2 separate regions of the Homo sapiens genome follow, and region 2 is linked to region 1. The links come from fine-mapping of genetic effects on plasma protein levels. A gene starts in region 1. The other region holds a variant in brackets. All regions are shown on one strand. Distances are from middle to middle.

Region 1 (8,339 bases):
TCTGCAGTGGATGTAAGCAACAAAAGGGCAATTACTTTTTCTCTTTTATTCTACCAAAGTACCCCATGTTTTTATGTCAGATCCTGGCACATAGTAGGTATCCAATAGATATGTGTGTAATGTTTGAATTGCTCAGTGGGACATTTCCCTCGAAGACTGAAATCTTCTATTTTAGGTGGTTTGCTCCTGTGGAATTTGACAGAAAATGAGTTTCCCATGTAGAGGACTTAGTGAAAAAAAATCAGTTTGCAAACATACAGAAAGTAGAAGAGCCCAGAGAAGAAAACCACAATCTCCCTTCACACCACATTGCCCACTCCACACCCAAGAGCAGCAGCTGCAGAAATCTCATGGAATAGAATCAAGACCGGAAGTGTTTGAGTAATGGTGAAACCTGTGACCTCTAGAGTCAGAGTGCCTGAGTTCAAATCGTAGCTCTACCAGTTACCAATGAGTGAGCCTGGAGCACTTTGTGCTTCTGTTTTCTTATCTGTTAGGAAAGGTGACAAGAATATCTACCTTGTATATAATGATCACATGAAGTAAAAGAGGTAAGGCATTTTCAACAGTGTCTGCCACATGGTGAACGTTCAAAAATTGTAAAGTTATTGCTCAGTAGATTTCTGAGGCTTGGAGGCTTCAGTGGACATTAGATGACAAGGATAAGGATAAGGGTATGGATATGGATATAAATATAACTATAGTTATAGGTAATATAGGCAGACCTGTGTCACCTGTATCCCCACATTTTTTTCCTCATTTCTACCTTCATGGAAGAGGGAATTTCAGGATAAAAATGCACAGAAATTCTGCTTTGAGGGAAAATGCATTTTACCAAGAGAGAAGTTTGCTTATCTGTTGCTTCTATTAACAGATTGGAGGACTTTCAGTGGTAAGATTAGAGAAGTAGGAAGGAGGGAGAGTGGCTGGGCAATAGGGAAAACCACACATCTCTTCAATGTGCATTTCATATAGACTGAAAAAATGAGTTGAAGTTTACAGTAAAGAAAGTCTTTAAAATTCTGTGTGTGTTTCAGCATGGTCACATGAGATTTATCTCAGGAATGCAAGGATGGTATAACATTCATAAATCTCCAAATGTGATATGCTACATCAAGGCAATCTTGAGCAAAAAGAACAAAGATGGGGCCGGGCATGGTGGCTCATGCCTGTAATCCCAGCACTTTGGGAGGCCGAAGCGAGCAGATCACGAGGTTAGGCAATCGAGACCGTCTTGGCCAACATGGTAAAACCTTGTCTCTACTGAAAATACAAAAAATTAGCCAGGCATGGTGGTGCACACCTGTAGTCCCAGCTACTTGGGAGGCTGAGGCAGGGGAATCACTTGAACCCGGGAGGTGGAGATTGCAGTGAGCTGAGATCACACCACTGCACTCCAGACTGGCGACAGAGCAAGACTGCATCTAAAAAAAAAAAAAAAAAGAACAAAGATGGAAGCACCACACTGCCTAATTTCAACATTGACTACAGTGTCAAAGTAATCAAAATGGCATGGCACTGGCATAAAAAGAGATATATAGACCAATGGATCAGAGCAGAGAGCCCAGCAATAAACTCACACATTCACACTCAATTGACTATTGACAAAAGTGTGAAGAAAACACAATGGTGAAAGGTCTGTCTCTTCAAAAAGTGGTGCTGGGAAAGTTGGATATCCATGTGTAGGGGAATGAAATTAGGCCTTCTTCTCATGCCTCATACAAAAATCAACTCAAAATGGATTAAAGATTTAAATGTAAGATCTGAAACTGTACAAGAACTAGAAGAAAAGTTTCATGACATTGGTCTTGGCAATACATTTTTGGATTTGAGCCCCAAAGCACAGGCAACAAAAGCAAAAATAGACAAAAGGCATTAACAACAAACTAAAAAAGCTTCTACCCAGCCAAGGAAACAATCAACAGAGTGAAGAGACAACCTATAGAATGGAAGAAAACATTTGCAAACCATACATCTGATAAGGAGTCAGTATACAAAATATATAAGGAAGTCAAACAACTCAACCATAAGAAAACAACCCTATTAAAATATGGGCCAAAGATCCGAATAGACATTTCTCAGAAGAAGACATTAAGATGGCAAGTCAGCGTATAAAAAAAAATCCAACCTTACTATTCATGAGATAAATGCAAATTAAAACCGCAGTGGGCTATCATCTCACACCTTTAAGAATGGCTATTATCAAAAAGAGGAAATTTAGTATTGGAGAAGATGTGGAGAAAAGGGAACCCTTGCAGACAGTTGGTGGGAATATAAATTAGTAGAGCCATTAGTGAAAACAGTATGCAGGTTCCTCAAGAAATTAAAAATATAACTCTTATCTGATCTGGTAATCTCACTACTGGCATATATCCAAAGGAAATGACATCAGCATGTCACACATATATCTGCACTCCCATGTCCATTGCAGCATTATTTACAAAAGCCAAGATATGGAATCAACCTAGGTGTCTATCAGCAGATAAATGGAGAAAGAAAATGTAGCATATATGCACAATGAAATTCTAATCAGCCTTACAAAAAGGGAAACCCTGTCATTTGCAACAACATGGATGAACCTGGAGGACATTCTGCTAAGTGAAATAAGCCAGGCACGGAAAGACAAACACTGTATGATTTCACGTATGAAGAATCTAAAAAGTTGAGCTCATAGAAGTAGAAAGTAGAATGGTGTTTATCGGGGGCTAGAGAGGGGGTGTAGTTGGGGAGATATTAGTCAAAGGATACAAAATTTCAATTTAAATAAGAGAAATAAGTTCAAGATATCTATTGTACAATGTGGTGTTTATACTTAATAATATGAATTGTATTCTTGAAAACTGCTGAGAGAGCAGAGTTTACGAGTTCTCACAATAAAAAATGATAAATATGTAAGGTAATGCATATGTTTATTAGTTCAAATTAGTCATTCCACAATGTATGCATATTTCTTAATATGTTGTACATAAGTATACATACTTTTGTCAAATAAAAATAAAATAAAATATTTATTTTGTTAAAAATTTCACTGAAAATAGAAAGAGAACCAATGATTAAAAATGAAATCTCATCTGTGCATGTACATGTACATGCATAGGCACATGTGCATATATATGTGTATATAATGTGTATATATACACATTCACAAATATATATAAAAGTTTGGCTTATCATGTTAGTATATAAGGTTGTTTTGTGCATTAATTACAATTATGACAAATTTAAAAATCTCAGTAAAATATTTGGCACATAGAAACCATCCAACACATTTTTAACATTTTGGGAAAACATACATACACTAGTGTTTTACCTCTGATTGTTTCTGACTGGTGTGATGGGTGATTATTAATCTAATGTTTGCTTGCCTGCATTTTCTAATATTTCTACACATAGCATAACATGGTTAAAAGGGTGATAAACTCTGGAACTGGTCAACCTGGACTTGATCCCAACTGCTCCATGGACTGAAGTAGGGGACAATGAACAGGTTCCTGCCTCTGCCTCACTCCCCATTTGCAAATAGAGCACAAGAGTTATAGCTTCCACACAGGGATGCTGTGAGGATTAGTTGACTTAATACACACAAAATGCTAAGAAGTGCATCTGCCTTACAGGAAGAGAGCAATTGCTGAACTATTACTGCTGTCATTTGGGTACAGTGTATGTGTAAAAAAAATAATTTGAAAAGTGAGACCTTGCCCTCTAAGACCTGTGAGATGACATCACAGCAGGGCCCAGTGGGCAACTGAGAGGCTATTGTGCCCAGCCCTGTGACCGGGGGTCAGCTGCATGGTCTGAAAAAGGGGTGAAGACAGGCAGCCTGTCTGGGAGCTGTGAACAGGGCTCTCTCAGGTGGCACCAGGAAAGACCTCCCAATCCTGTCTGCCTGGGGGAAGGGAAAATAAATTCTCCAGAGGAAAGTCAAGATGACCAAGGGAGATGGTGGTGCCTGTTATGGGCTGAATGTGCCCCCAAAACGAATGGGTTGAAGCCCCAATCCCCAGCGCCTTAGAATTTGACCATATTTGGAGACAAGGTCTTTAACCCATTTATGCCCGAGGTTGCAATTTTTTTTTAATTTGAAAAATCAGACCTTGGCGATGCCCTTGAGCAGTAGGATATAAATAACTCCCGCAAGCTTAGTGATCCAATAACGGAGCACTAGGCATAAATGGGTGAAGCAATTTAGTTAAATGAGGTCACTGGCGGGGAGCCTTAATCCAATATGGCTGATGTTCTCATAAGAGAAAATGAGAATACAGACACACACAGAGGAAGACCATGTGTCAAGACACATGGAGGAGATGGCCTTCTACAAGCCAAGGAGAAAGACCTCAGTAGAAACTAACCCTGCTGGCATCTTGATTTTGCAATTCAGCCTCCAGAACTGAAAGAAAGAAAGTAAATGTCTATTGTTTTAGTTACTGAGTCTGTGGTGCTTTGTTGTGGAAGCCCTAAGAAAGGAATATAGGACGCTGTAAGCATGAAATGTGGAACTTCTTAAAGAGGAGGAGGGCACACAAAAATGGGTAGGAGGACTCAAGACAGGTAAGGATTTAATAATGATTCTTCTGTGTTTGTCAAATAAAATATTATAAAAATGTAACTAATTGTGATGGTGGCAGAAGCCTCACAAGGTTTGATGCCTCTGGTAGCCAGCTGCAGATCCACAGAGAAAGTGCTCAGCTCCCTGATCTTCTGCTCTTGGACAATGTCCAGTCCTTGACCTTCCTTGGCAGTGCTTGTGCTTATCTGAAATTGCTGCAAGTCCAGGGGCAAGGCTAGGTCCAGGAAGCAGGGAGAAAGGGTTCTAGCCCAATGCAATGCTCACCTGTAAGTCCCAGCAGTAGAGTCAGAAGCAGGAAAGGACCAGGAGGATGGGGCCAGGAGGCTGGGACAGGCATTTTGGAGACCTCAGAAGCCTGCTCTGTTCAAACGTCTGTTCTGGGGAGATGTCAGGCCCTGCTCTGAAGACAGAAGACAAGCCCTGCCTCCCTCAATTCAAGAGGAAGTGGCTATGATGGAATGCAACAGTAACCTGCTTCTAGATTGTGACTTACAAATCAGGCACAGTAGGCAGCTACAAAGCAAGGAGTTAATCGTGCTCCATTTTCAGGATAATCAGACAGGGTTAGCAGAAATAATGCTTCCTGCCTGCCTGGGACCTGTGCTCCCTCCTCGTGTCCCCAAACCCATTTTCAGGTCTTCTTGGTGATTTGCCATTTGAGGCTTTTAAGTCAAGAAAGATCTGTTGTTAGGTATTGTTTTCTAAAGTCTTTATTTCAAGACCCTAGGATGTGGTTGGCTTGTGGTCTTGTTCTGCACCAGCCTCAACCAAATGCCACTCCGCTGGACGTAGGAGAAGAGTTCACAGGACCTGCTCAACACTGGAGAGGAACCAGATCTTCTCCTGAAATGATTTTCTATTCCAAATTGCTATAATTGGCAACACTTAGCCCAAATTCAGTCTCTTGTGGACCTTAGCACTTTCATGTGCCTGCACCCAGCAGAAGGAATTATTTCTTGACTCCTTCCAGGAGAGAAACTGGGTTTGAGGTAATAAGCAACTGCTTTGTGGAGTGAGGTGGGGATTGTGGGTTATGGAAAGGGGATAGGGTTATCATGAGGGAAGATTATGGTGGGCAGGTTCCTGGGGCCGTCGCATCAATTTCAATACCCTTTCTTCTACACACAGAGCACCTATTTCATTCATCACTGAGTTCGGATGGGAAATGAGGAAAGAGGAAAAATCCATGCTCCTGCCAAGAGTGTGTGCCAAGGAGTTGGGGAAGTCGCTGGGCCCTCCTATGCTCAGTTTCAATCTCCTAAACTGGGAATAGTAAGTCTTTTTGTGCAGTGTTTTAGTGACGATTAAAGAGGTAATGAGCATATCATGCCTGAAACCCAGTAGGTCATTATTGATACTCACGGTGCCAGGTGAAGTGCGGGAACTCAAATGTTGCTTTTGAATGGATCCCTCCTGCATGCTGAGTTGCCCACCAGTGGCTTTCTCCCAGCAACCCAGGCCTCCTGAGACCCAGCTTATATAGTGTATTTGGACTCTCGCTGCCACCCTGAAATCAGTTTCTCCCTCTGGATTCTCTAAATCCCGCTCCTTGTTCAACCATAGATTAATTCCTCCTCTTACAATTTCCAGCTGTGTGATTTTCAAAAAGACACTACTTCTCTGAGCCTTGGTTTGATTGTATGTAAATAAATGTTAGAATATGCACCTTGTAGAGCTATGGTAGGAATAATATAAGCCATACTGAATGCTTGACTCATAATTAATTATAAGCAAAAAAACATGGCTATAATTATTTTCTGTGTACAGGAAGAGTCCACTGGTTCTCTGCCACCGTTGTGCCTTAGAAAAGCCACCTTGTTAAAAGAAATGATTTCTCTTCCAGCATCTATGACTAAGAAAGACCTGTCCAGAATCCTTCATCTCACATGTGGGTTTTAGGTTCTTAATCTGTCATGAATAATTGTCAAATCAAATTGTAAATGTTATCATGTTTTAATTGAAAGTCCTGTTTTAATGTGGCAGATGTACACAGGGTGAAATCTTCCCCTCCTTCTCCACACCCACAGTAGTGAAAACACAAAATGAAAAGAATATATGAATCAATGTCTAATTACACTTGAATACAAGCAATTGGCTTCTATATGACATGAAGGAATTATAACAGCTATCATTTATTGAGAGTTTCCTGTGCTCCAGATATGGTGCCAAGCATTTTTCTATTGGTAATGTCATTAAATCATTGCTCTGACCCCATGAGGTAAGCTCAACCATTAACCTCCTTTCACAGGTGAGAAAACCCGAGGCACATGGAGAGTAATGAATTTGCTCAAGATCACCCGGCTTTTAGAACTGGAACATAGGCTGCCACACTCCACAGCCTTCACTTTTAATGGTTGTACTATGATACCTCTTGCAGGAAGGGAGAGACATCCCTCAGGAAGAAAGCAGAGAAGAAGCTATAGCCTCAATTAGGAGCAGCCCTCATAGTGAGGCTGGGGCAGGTGCCATGCTCCACGAGGCCCTGACAACCCATGATCACATGGGGAATTATTCCTGGGAAGACGGAAGTGCAAGCAAGAATCACCAAAGATTTGAGGAACAGCACTGCAGCTAACAAATTCAAGAAAAACAATAACTCAAAAACAAATAGCAATCAAAAGAACTTCACACCTGAGCAAATATGAAAAAACAAAATGTGTAAAGTTCTTTAAAGTTAGTATACTTAATGATCTTATAAGGAAAACAAAAGAGAAGTAAATTCATAAACCAACATCAGGCATGTAATAATATGAAACAGAAATAGGCGGGCATGAGGTAACAACAACCATCTTGAAAAAATACCAAAACACAGACTTTGGAAATGAAAACATAATCAGTGCTGAAATTTTTTAAAAAAACTTAATAGGTTGACTAGCTGACTATACATAAATAAGTATAATAGTAAGTTAGTAAGCTGGGTGATTATGTAGGGGAAATTTCCTGTGGTACAGCACAGAGACACACCCAAACAAAGTAATGTGGATAGGTAAAAATATACCACAATATTGTGGTATATCTTTTCCTATTGCTCTATTTTTACCTATCCACATTACTACATTACTTTGAGAGGTGTGAGTCATAAAGTATTATGTCTCCAAAAATAAGAATTGGGCGTATATGACTCAAAAATGCATAGTATAGTGTCAGGAAGATGGCAGAATCTGTGCTTAGAGCAGCAAGTGCCTTCCTGTGAACTTCAATCCTTCAGTAAAGATCAACTAAGTACACAGATGCTTACAATTTTTGTGGAAATCACGTGGAGAATTGAAATTTAAATTTAGGTGACTTGGGGAAGCATAGATAAAATCTGAATGTTTGAGAGGACCAGGAACCTGGGAGTCCATGAGCCAAAATTCTCCTTTATCTGCCATATTTCACCCTGACTCATCACAGCAGGTGCAGATAACCAGGGACGACTTTGGGACACATGAGAAACTGGGAGCCAGTGGATGCTCCAGAAGACTAAAGATGTAAGACTGTGGGCTTAAGAATCAAAACTTCCTGGTCTGAAATCCAGCTCTAATGGGTCCCAGCTGTGTGATCCTGGGGTCACTATTAACTTCCCTGTTTCCTGAGTTTCCCCAAGTGTACAACGGAGAGAATAATCATACCATCTTCATAAGTTTGTGATGAGAATTAAATGAACTAATATATGCAAATTACTTAATACTATCTGACCATGTCCTCCAAAAGTTATATATTCAGTATTACCATTATCATTATAGATAGTAGTTAGATATTATCGTTATTAGGTAGTGTTTTGGTAATAGCA
Region 2 (8,339 bases), 22 kb before region 1:
TAGGGAGGGTCACAAGGTTACTTGCATTCAAACCTAAAGAAGCTCATCACTAGTGTTCCTTAGGTTGATCCCTGAGACCATGTCCTTTGGAACAAAACAAGTCCAAATTCCTAGGGACATTTTAATGACTATAAAAGGGTAGGCAGGTGGCTTGAGGATGGCTTCACAATGAGAGTTGCAGGTTCCCTGCTTAGCCCCAGAAGTAAGGGGAGGACTCCGTGTTCTCAGAACTTGGAGGAGCCATGGAACACTGGACATAATGAAACCTTCCGGCTAGAAAACATCCTGGTGAGTCACGGAAATGGGTCTCATGCTTGGGAGGGCCTCAGATGTCACCTAGGCCACCTCCACCCCAGTGCAGGTGTCATCTGAAATCTTTCTGTTAGTTGGGCACACTCAGTTACGGGGAAGCACATGTTTGGACGCTGCATTTTTAACATGAGCAGTTCAGGCTTTTAAAATCAACATTTTTAACGCGAGCAGTTTGGGCCATTAAAGATATTACAGTATATTTTAAATAAATAAAATGGTGCTGGTGGGTCCTTAAGGAAGAAATGGAGAACTCAGCATCTGTGGCTGCTGGGGTGTTGGAGGCCGGCAGTTCTCAGCTGGGTGGCTCTCTGGGACTTCTTCTCCCTTGAGGAAAGCTGCACTGCCCAATTCCAAGTTCACTCCTCCTTCTAGGGGACAGCCCACAAGAAAGATTGGCTGAATTGAAAATAGGAAGGCCACGCTTCTCTCCTCAATTAAAAAACACTACATGACGCTCTCAGCCCTTGGGATCCTCCGCAGGAGCAGCTGGGTCTTTGTTCTACCTGCACTGTAGCTCAGCACCTCGCTCCTCCTACAGTCCTGCCTCCCCATTTCCTGAGGCATGCTGACCCTACAGCTCTTCAGGATGCTTCCTGCATTCCTGTATCCATCTCTAGTCTGCCTTACAGAGAAACTGACCTTGGTAAGTTGTCTGTAAAGCTTACTCTAAAATATAAATTTGAAGCCTGAATACTCATCAGCTCGCAATGAGGACCTCAGGGCTGGCAGTGAGTGGGGCTGGGCACCATGGCTGGGATGCAATTGATAAAACTTTCACTGGCAGTAAGCTGGGATGGCGTAACCACAGGCAGGAAATTCCTTGGCATCAGGCTTTTGAAACAAATTGGGAAATGGTAGTTATAAGGACTAACTTGTTCCATGGCTATCACTGGGCATATTTTTTTTGGGGAAATATGCTGAGAAGCTACGAGTGATTGATTATGAGTTAAGGTTCAGCGTGAAAGCAAGAGGACTTCTTGGCAGCACTGCACTTTCTTATCTCTTGTGGCTAGAGGGCAGAAAGAATAGAGGGTTGGGCCCTGGACATCATTAAAAGAGTAGCAGAATCACAGAGGAGGATGAATCTCAGCTTCAACGGTTGCTATGCTGGGGTAGGGCCCTGATGGGGAAGTTGTGGGACCCTGAGATGTGGGAGTGGACATTTGGGTCAAAGCACTCAAAGATCTTCGGTTGACTTAAGAGTTGCTGGGTACAATTGCAGCAGCATAGCTACTTATCTGTATAAAATATCCTCCCCAAATCAAATAAAAAATGAAAACAAAGTAAGTTCTGCACAACCCTGGCTCTCAGTATTACTTGAAGAGAGAAAGCCAAACTGCAAAATGACCGTGAGTCAAAACAGAACACTCACCTAACCCTAGTGCACAGTCTCTTACCCGGCTCCCACGCCACTGGTGCAGCACTTATGTAACCACAAGGCATCTTGCATTTTACCTGCCAGCCTAGACAACTTAAAATGCATTTCCAGCCTTAGTACCTGAGCAAAGATGCTACATCTGGCAAACCGAAAGCACCCAAAAATGCCAGCCCTGGTCCTGGTCCAAGCCAGTGGGTGGATGAATAACTGAAAAGCAAATGCAATCCAGTCTTGATGGTGCAGTTTTACCTCCCTGAGAAGTAAAACTATGAACCCTAGAAACATCACAAGGATCAGGAATAGGAGAAATTCCAAGGTGGGAGAGGAAGAAGGGAGACTGACTAGGGGCCTCAGGACTGAGGGACAGCCCTGCAGCCAGGCACCTGGGACCCATCCCCCAACACCAGCCCCAGCCATAAACGGAGGCAAAGGAATGACATAGAAAAGAGCAAAAGCCTCAAGTCAATTAAATCACCACTTCAAGAAACTAGAAAAAGTAGAGCAAAATAAACTCAAAGCAAGCAGGAGACAGGAATTAATAAAAAGAAGAGTGCAAAAAATGAATAAACTGGAAACACAAAAACAATTTAAAAACTCACGGAAACAAAGTGGTCCTTTGAAAAGACCAATAAAATGGAAAAAAACTATAGCAAGGCTGATGAAGAAGAAAACAGAAATGGCATATTTTAGATATGAGGTTGAAACAGGGGATATCGCCATAACCCTTCAGACACCAAAAAGATAATAAGGAGATATTATGAACAACTCTACACACAAAAATATGACAACTTAGATAAAATGGACACAAAATTCTTCAAAAGGCACGAGTTACCGGAACTCACCCAATATGAAATGAATAATATGAGTAACCCTAAACTACTGAGGAAATTGAATTTATACTTTTAAAACACCCCCAAAAATTCTTGAGGCCCAAGTGTTTCAAAGAAAAATACTGCAAAGCATTTAAATATGAATTAAAACCAAATTTAGTGCACAGAAAGATAGTCATAAAAGAAATTTGAGGAAAATTTGAATGTATACTCCATTTTAGATGATATAAGGGAATTGTTTTAATAATTTTATGAAATTTAGTGATTAAAAATTTGAAATTGTATTAACTGTAATAATGATACTGGTTTTGTTATGCTGTCTTTAGTCATAAGATCACCCAACTATGGATTCCATTTGGAACTGCGTGTACATGCATGACTGAGTTAGCTGTGGACATGATCACACGCCTTCCATACATCTCTGATTATAGAAGATATTTTTTGCCCTCCATTTCCTATATTTACTCTTCCAGCAGACAGGGACATGGAAAAATCCGTGACCTAGCACTGACCCAGCAGATAAGACTAACCACCATAAGGTATGTGGGAGGAACCTGGGCCTTTGAAAAGTCTCCTGGAGTTGAGACTCCTCCTGGTATTACACAAGAGGGAAGTAAGACATATTTTGGTCATACGGAGTGGAACACAGGCCAACTTCAGGTCCATGGGACAATGCCCAGCAGAAGAGGACTGTTTCTCTAACTAGCACAAATTTGCATTTTAGGCTGATACTGACCTTGTCCTCAGGGACCCAGATTTACTTTAATTAGTTTGAACCAATAACCCGATCTAAAGGCAAGAGGTCTTCAACAACATCCCCCATGACTTCCCAAGTCCTAGTTTCCCCTTCTTTAAAACTCCAGACTTACTGGGTGGTTGAAGCAAAAACAGAGATCATGGATGAATGGAAATTTGCACTTAGTAAATTTGCAGAGGGGTTTGTGATTATTGTTGCTCAAATATCACAATCAGGACACAGAAGAGGTCCGTTCTGTGACCATTCATGGTCACCTGCAGGCCTGGTACAGTTTTTTTTTTTTTTTTTGACAGAGTCTCGCTCTGTCGCCCAGGCTGGAGTGCAGTGGCATGATCTCGGCTCACTGCAAGCTCCGCCTCCTGGGTTCACACCATTCTCCTGCCTCAGCCTCCCGAGTAGCTGGGACTACAGGCGCCCGCCACCACGCCCGGCTCATTTTTTTGTATTTTTAGTAGAGATGGGGTTTCACCGTGTTAACCAGGATGGTCTCGATCTCCTGACCTCGTGATCCGCCCGCCTCGGCCTCCCAAAGTGCTGGGATTACAGGCGTGAGCCGCCAGGCCTGGTACAGTTTTAAACTACATTTGTCTTTCTGAAACATACACAGCAGATGTCAGGGTGTACTGGGATGAGGTCATAAATGAGGATGGAAAAGTTTGGATGAAACAGAAACAAAGCAGAGGTTAGAAAAAGTAGGGAGCACAAGGGTGGGCTGATGAGAAACGGGCACAACAACTCTCAAGGAATAAGGGAAGGCAAAGGACTCTATGAGAAGATGGTTCCCCCTGCCTGCCTCTTTGCTCCTTAAATATATATTTATGTACGCCAGGCGCGGTGGCTCACGCCTGTAATCCCAGCACTTTGGGAGGCTGAGGCGGGCGGATCACGAGGTCAGGAGATCGAGACCATCCTGGCTAACACGGTGAAACCCCATCTCTACTAAAAATACAAAAAATTAGTCGGGCGTGGTGGCGGGCGCCTGTAGTCCCAGCTACTCGGGAGGCTGAGACAGGAGAATGGCGTGAACCCGGGAGGCGGAGCTTGCGGTGAGCAGAGATCGCGCCACTGCACTCCAG[T/C]CTGGGCGACAGAGCCAGACTCCGTCTCAAAAAAAAAAAAAATTAAACATATATTTATGTCAAAAGTTCTATTAACTTGTGCATCAAATTCTTACTAGTCATGACTCTTCGCATGTGGGATTTGGGGGGATGGAGCTGACATTAAAATTTTACTTTGTATTTATAGACTTCTAGCTTATTTTACAGCAAGTGTGGATATTACTTTTAAAATGAGAGAAAAAGACAAAATTTAAAAATTTTGAGTAACCTCACCAGGGGTAGCATCTGAGCTCTGGTCCTTCTGGTGGACTGTGACCTCTAGGGCAAGGCGTTTGCTGACCGCCAGCTGCCCATCATGCTTCACCTGGCAGGTGAGGACCACATCATCCCTTTGGTCAGATATGTTCACCAGGAACCAGCTTGTCCAGTTGTAGGTACCATCCTTGTTCTCTGTAAGGGTCGAGGCTGTTTCTCTCTGGCACACGTTTCCATTCTCCGACCAGGTCAGCTGTAGGCTCTGGGGGTAGAACTTCCTCACCTGGCAGGTGACGTTTACCTGGTTCCCCACCCTCATGGGCTGTTGAGTAACCTCCAAGGTGGGTGGAACTGAAACAGCACAGGGTAGAAGCTCTGATCTTCTGGCACAGACAGATCACAGGGAGGGCTCCATAACTTAACTCCCACTACCACGGTGAGGGCATCACCAGGACAGTGCTAGGCAGGCAGCAGATGCTAAGACATTGAGGGCGCTCTTTGCATATGAATGAAATTACCAAGCACAGTGCCTGGTGCACAGTAGGTGCTCAAGGACTGGTAGCTCCTACTAGGCTAAGAATGAGTGAAATCTACAAGCACAACCCCTGGCATGCAGTTGGAATGTAAGAACTGTAGCAAAATCAGTGAAATCGCCGAGCACATAGGGACTTGGCTCATAGTAGGTACTCACTAATAGTAGTTGTTCTTGGTGAGATAAATGAAACTCTCTAGCGCAGAGCTTGGCACGTGATTGCTGGTCCCCTGACCGCTGCCAATAAAATGATAGTAAGTGACCAGCACACCTAGGTGCATGGCGGGCGGGCAGTATAGTCAGGGATTAGATTACAGGCCATTCAACCTCTGGAGCAACAGCCTGGGGAGAGGGGAGTGGGCTTGACAGCCAGGTGTGGGCTTGGGCTGGGTGTGAGGGTCCTCTACCTCGGATGGCCTCAGACAAGTTGGCAGTCCCACGAAGAGGGTCCCCCTGCAAGGTGACATGGGCCACCTCGCAGATGACCTGAGAGCGAACGTCCCAGGGGTCCAGTACCACCCTGGCTGTGCTGCGGATGCTGTAGGCCACACTCTGTCCTGTGGGGTCCACGTTGGTCTGGAAGTCTGAGAGCTCATTCCCATTTTTGAACCATTTCAGGGTGATGTCTCTGGGAGAGAAGCCATGGGACTCACAGGTGAAACTCACTGTATGCTCAGGTGTGGTCCTCGCCGCAGGGCCCAATACCACGGGGGCAGAGGGTTTGGCTACAAAAGGGGCATCGATAAACAGGAGACATGACTGAGATGACAATCACTAACGATGAGTGTGTGACACTGTTAAGAACCTTCAGATACATTAATTTTAATCCTTCTAATAATGTGGAGAGGATGGTGTTCTTATTCTCATTTTACAGAGCAGGATGCAAAGGTTGGAAGAGGTGACGACCAGCCCCAGGTCAGACAGTGTAGGGAAAGGTCCCAGAGGGAAGTCCAGGTCTGAGTTCAAAGTCCTCCTCTCCACATAGGGTGACTTCCACCAATCTGGGCACAGGAACAAAGTTACTGATTGTTCTCCCTCTGTGTATTAACTGGTGCTAGCCTGTTTCCCCAGGAGAGCTCACCAACCTCAGAGAGGGTGTTTACAGAAGCCAAAGTAGGGAACAATGGCAAAGTGGCGCCACCATGAGACCTGCAACCAGGCTGCTCAGCCCATGAGAGGGGTGGCCTGGAACATGCAGCCCCTCATCTGCAAAGTGGGACAGCAGCATTTTCCCTTCCCAGGGGTGCAACAAGGATTAAATGGGGCCATGGAAGAAGTTTTGCTTTGGATCAAAGTCAGAAGATGCTTCATAAAAATAAACACAGATCTGTCTTTAATCCAGACTTGACATATACCTAGAGCTCTCTCTCTTTGTGTATTTATGAATTTATTCCATATTTTTCATTCTTTTCACAAATATTCCAGTACAGTTTTTGAAAGAAAATGAAGTAGTTAAGGCTAAAGCTTTAACATGGAGTCAAGCGTTTGTAAGAGCATTGCACTCACACCTGCTAAAGGTCAAGCCACAGGATGTTGCTGTAGACCTGGATAACAATGGACTGAAGTCAAGGTACATGGGATTTTGATTTCTCTCATCCTGGAGTGTCCTAATTAAGTAACCAATTCATACGAGTTTGCAGTTTAGCATTTCTGCCAGGCAATGAACTGTTTTCAAAAACAACATTTTGTGAAAGTCCCCAGTACAAAACTTTTCCTGCATTGCCCTATGGGACACTGTTCAGGACTACCATGACTCAGGGTTCCCAAATTGCAACTCTTTATTTCCCAGATAAATGCTATTTCCTTTGGCCTTCCTATCAATCATTATTTTTTTTAGTTAGCAGGTCTAATCTGTGCCAAGTCCCAAATTTGAAAAGAGGGAAGGTTTCTTGGAATCTAGGTCTTCAGTTGGGCCAGGTTGGGTCCAAAAACAATGATCACTGAGTACTAAGAAAGCCAAAGGTGGGTGATTTCTTCATCGTTAATTCATTACAAGAGACAAAGATCTAGGCCACCCCAACAGGCAGAAATCTATCCTGGGTCCTGAAAGCACACAAACTGGAGAATCAGAAAAATGAGGGTAGTTTCTCCCTGTAGATGAGTCCTAAACGTGTCTCCAAATTGCTAATTATTACCCTGCACCTCCTATAGCAGTCATCAGGAAACACATATTAGGCATACTTGCATTTGTAAATATTAACTTGCTCCCTACCACATGCAAACATTTTATGGGCACAGTAAGAAGGGTGTCACTTGAAGAAGTCAAGTCATCAAGACACCAGCAGCATTGGGCATCCCTAGAGGGCTGAGAGGCTGTAACCAGTTGCCATTTATTGAGGGCTTCTTGGGAGCCTGATGCTGGCTGCTCCCTCTGTACCTCTCAGCTCTTTAATCCTCCCTTTATTGCCTTGAGGGGGTCCTCGTGTGAGTCCCTTATAGGACCAGGGTCTGAGGGGACCCCAGCTAGCAAAGGGCCAAAAGTGGATAAAAAACCCACCCTGGTAAGGTGAGGGAGGATGAAGGCAAGCACGGAGCCTGGTATGCAGCAGGTGCTTAATAAATGAGCCCTATGGCTGTTATCAAGAGGTTTGGTCATTACTACTTCTGAATCTACACACTTATTCTTTAGGCAGCAGAACATAGAGGAGTAGAAACACCAAGAAAAGGCTCAAATCCTGCTCCCTGCAGCTCATGAAAAACTCAAATGATAATAAAAGCAAAACCACCAAGTCTGGACAACTGGCTTTCAAAAAAAAATAAGATCATAGGTAAAGCTGGAAGCATTTTGGAAGGAGGAGGGAACAGAGTCCTCTGTGACATCTTTTTATTATTATTATTTTACTTTAAGTTCTGGGATACAAGTGCAGAATATGCAGGTTTGTTTTATAGGTTATGTTTGCCATGGTGGTTTGCTGCACTTATCAACCCATCATCTAGATTTTAAGCCCTGCATGCATTAGCTATTTGTCCTAATGCTCTCCTTCCCCTCACCCCCCCACCCCTTGACTGGCCCTGGTGTGTGTTGTTCCCCTCCCTGCGTCCATGTGTTCACATTGTGCAACTCCCACTTATGAGTGAGAACATGTGGTGTTTGCTTTTCTGTCCCTGTGTTAGTTTGCTGAGGATAATGGCTTCCAGCTTCATCCATGGCCCCGCAAAGGACATGAACTCATTCTTTTTTATGGCTGCATAGTATTCCATGGTGTATATGTACCACCTT

The links. A credible set is the group of variants that fine-mapping cannot tell apart. PIP is the posterior inclusion probability: the model's chance that the variant is causal. Protein levels are from the aptamer-based SomaScan assay of Sun 2018.
Region 2: its variant is the best candidate, but not a certain one, in a credible set for the plasma level of the SIRPG protein (Sun 2018, PIP 0.52).

What each region holds. Positions count from the first base shown.
Region 1 is chr20:1,652,811-1,661,149 of GRCh38, forward strand. SIRPG (signal regulatory protein gamma) reads right to left here and starts at 4,969. Exons shown (of 6, transcript NM_018556.4): 1 at 4,832-4,969. The coding sequence starts at 4,904.
Region 2 is chr20:1,630,662-1,639,000 of GRCh38, forward strand. SIRPG (signal regulatory protein gamma) reads right to left here. Exons shown (of 6, transcript NM_018556.4): 3 at 5,527-5,844; 4 at 4,606-4,938. SIRPG-AS1 (SIRPG antisense RNA 1) reads left to right here and starts at 2,847. Exons shown (of 3, transcript NR_110090.1): 1 at 2,847-3,059; 2 at 6,545-6,689. RefSeq lists an enhancer at 4,429-5,254. The variant T/C (reference allele first, on the strand shown) is at 4,354.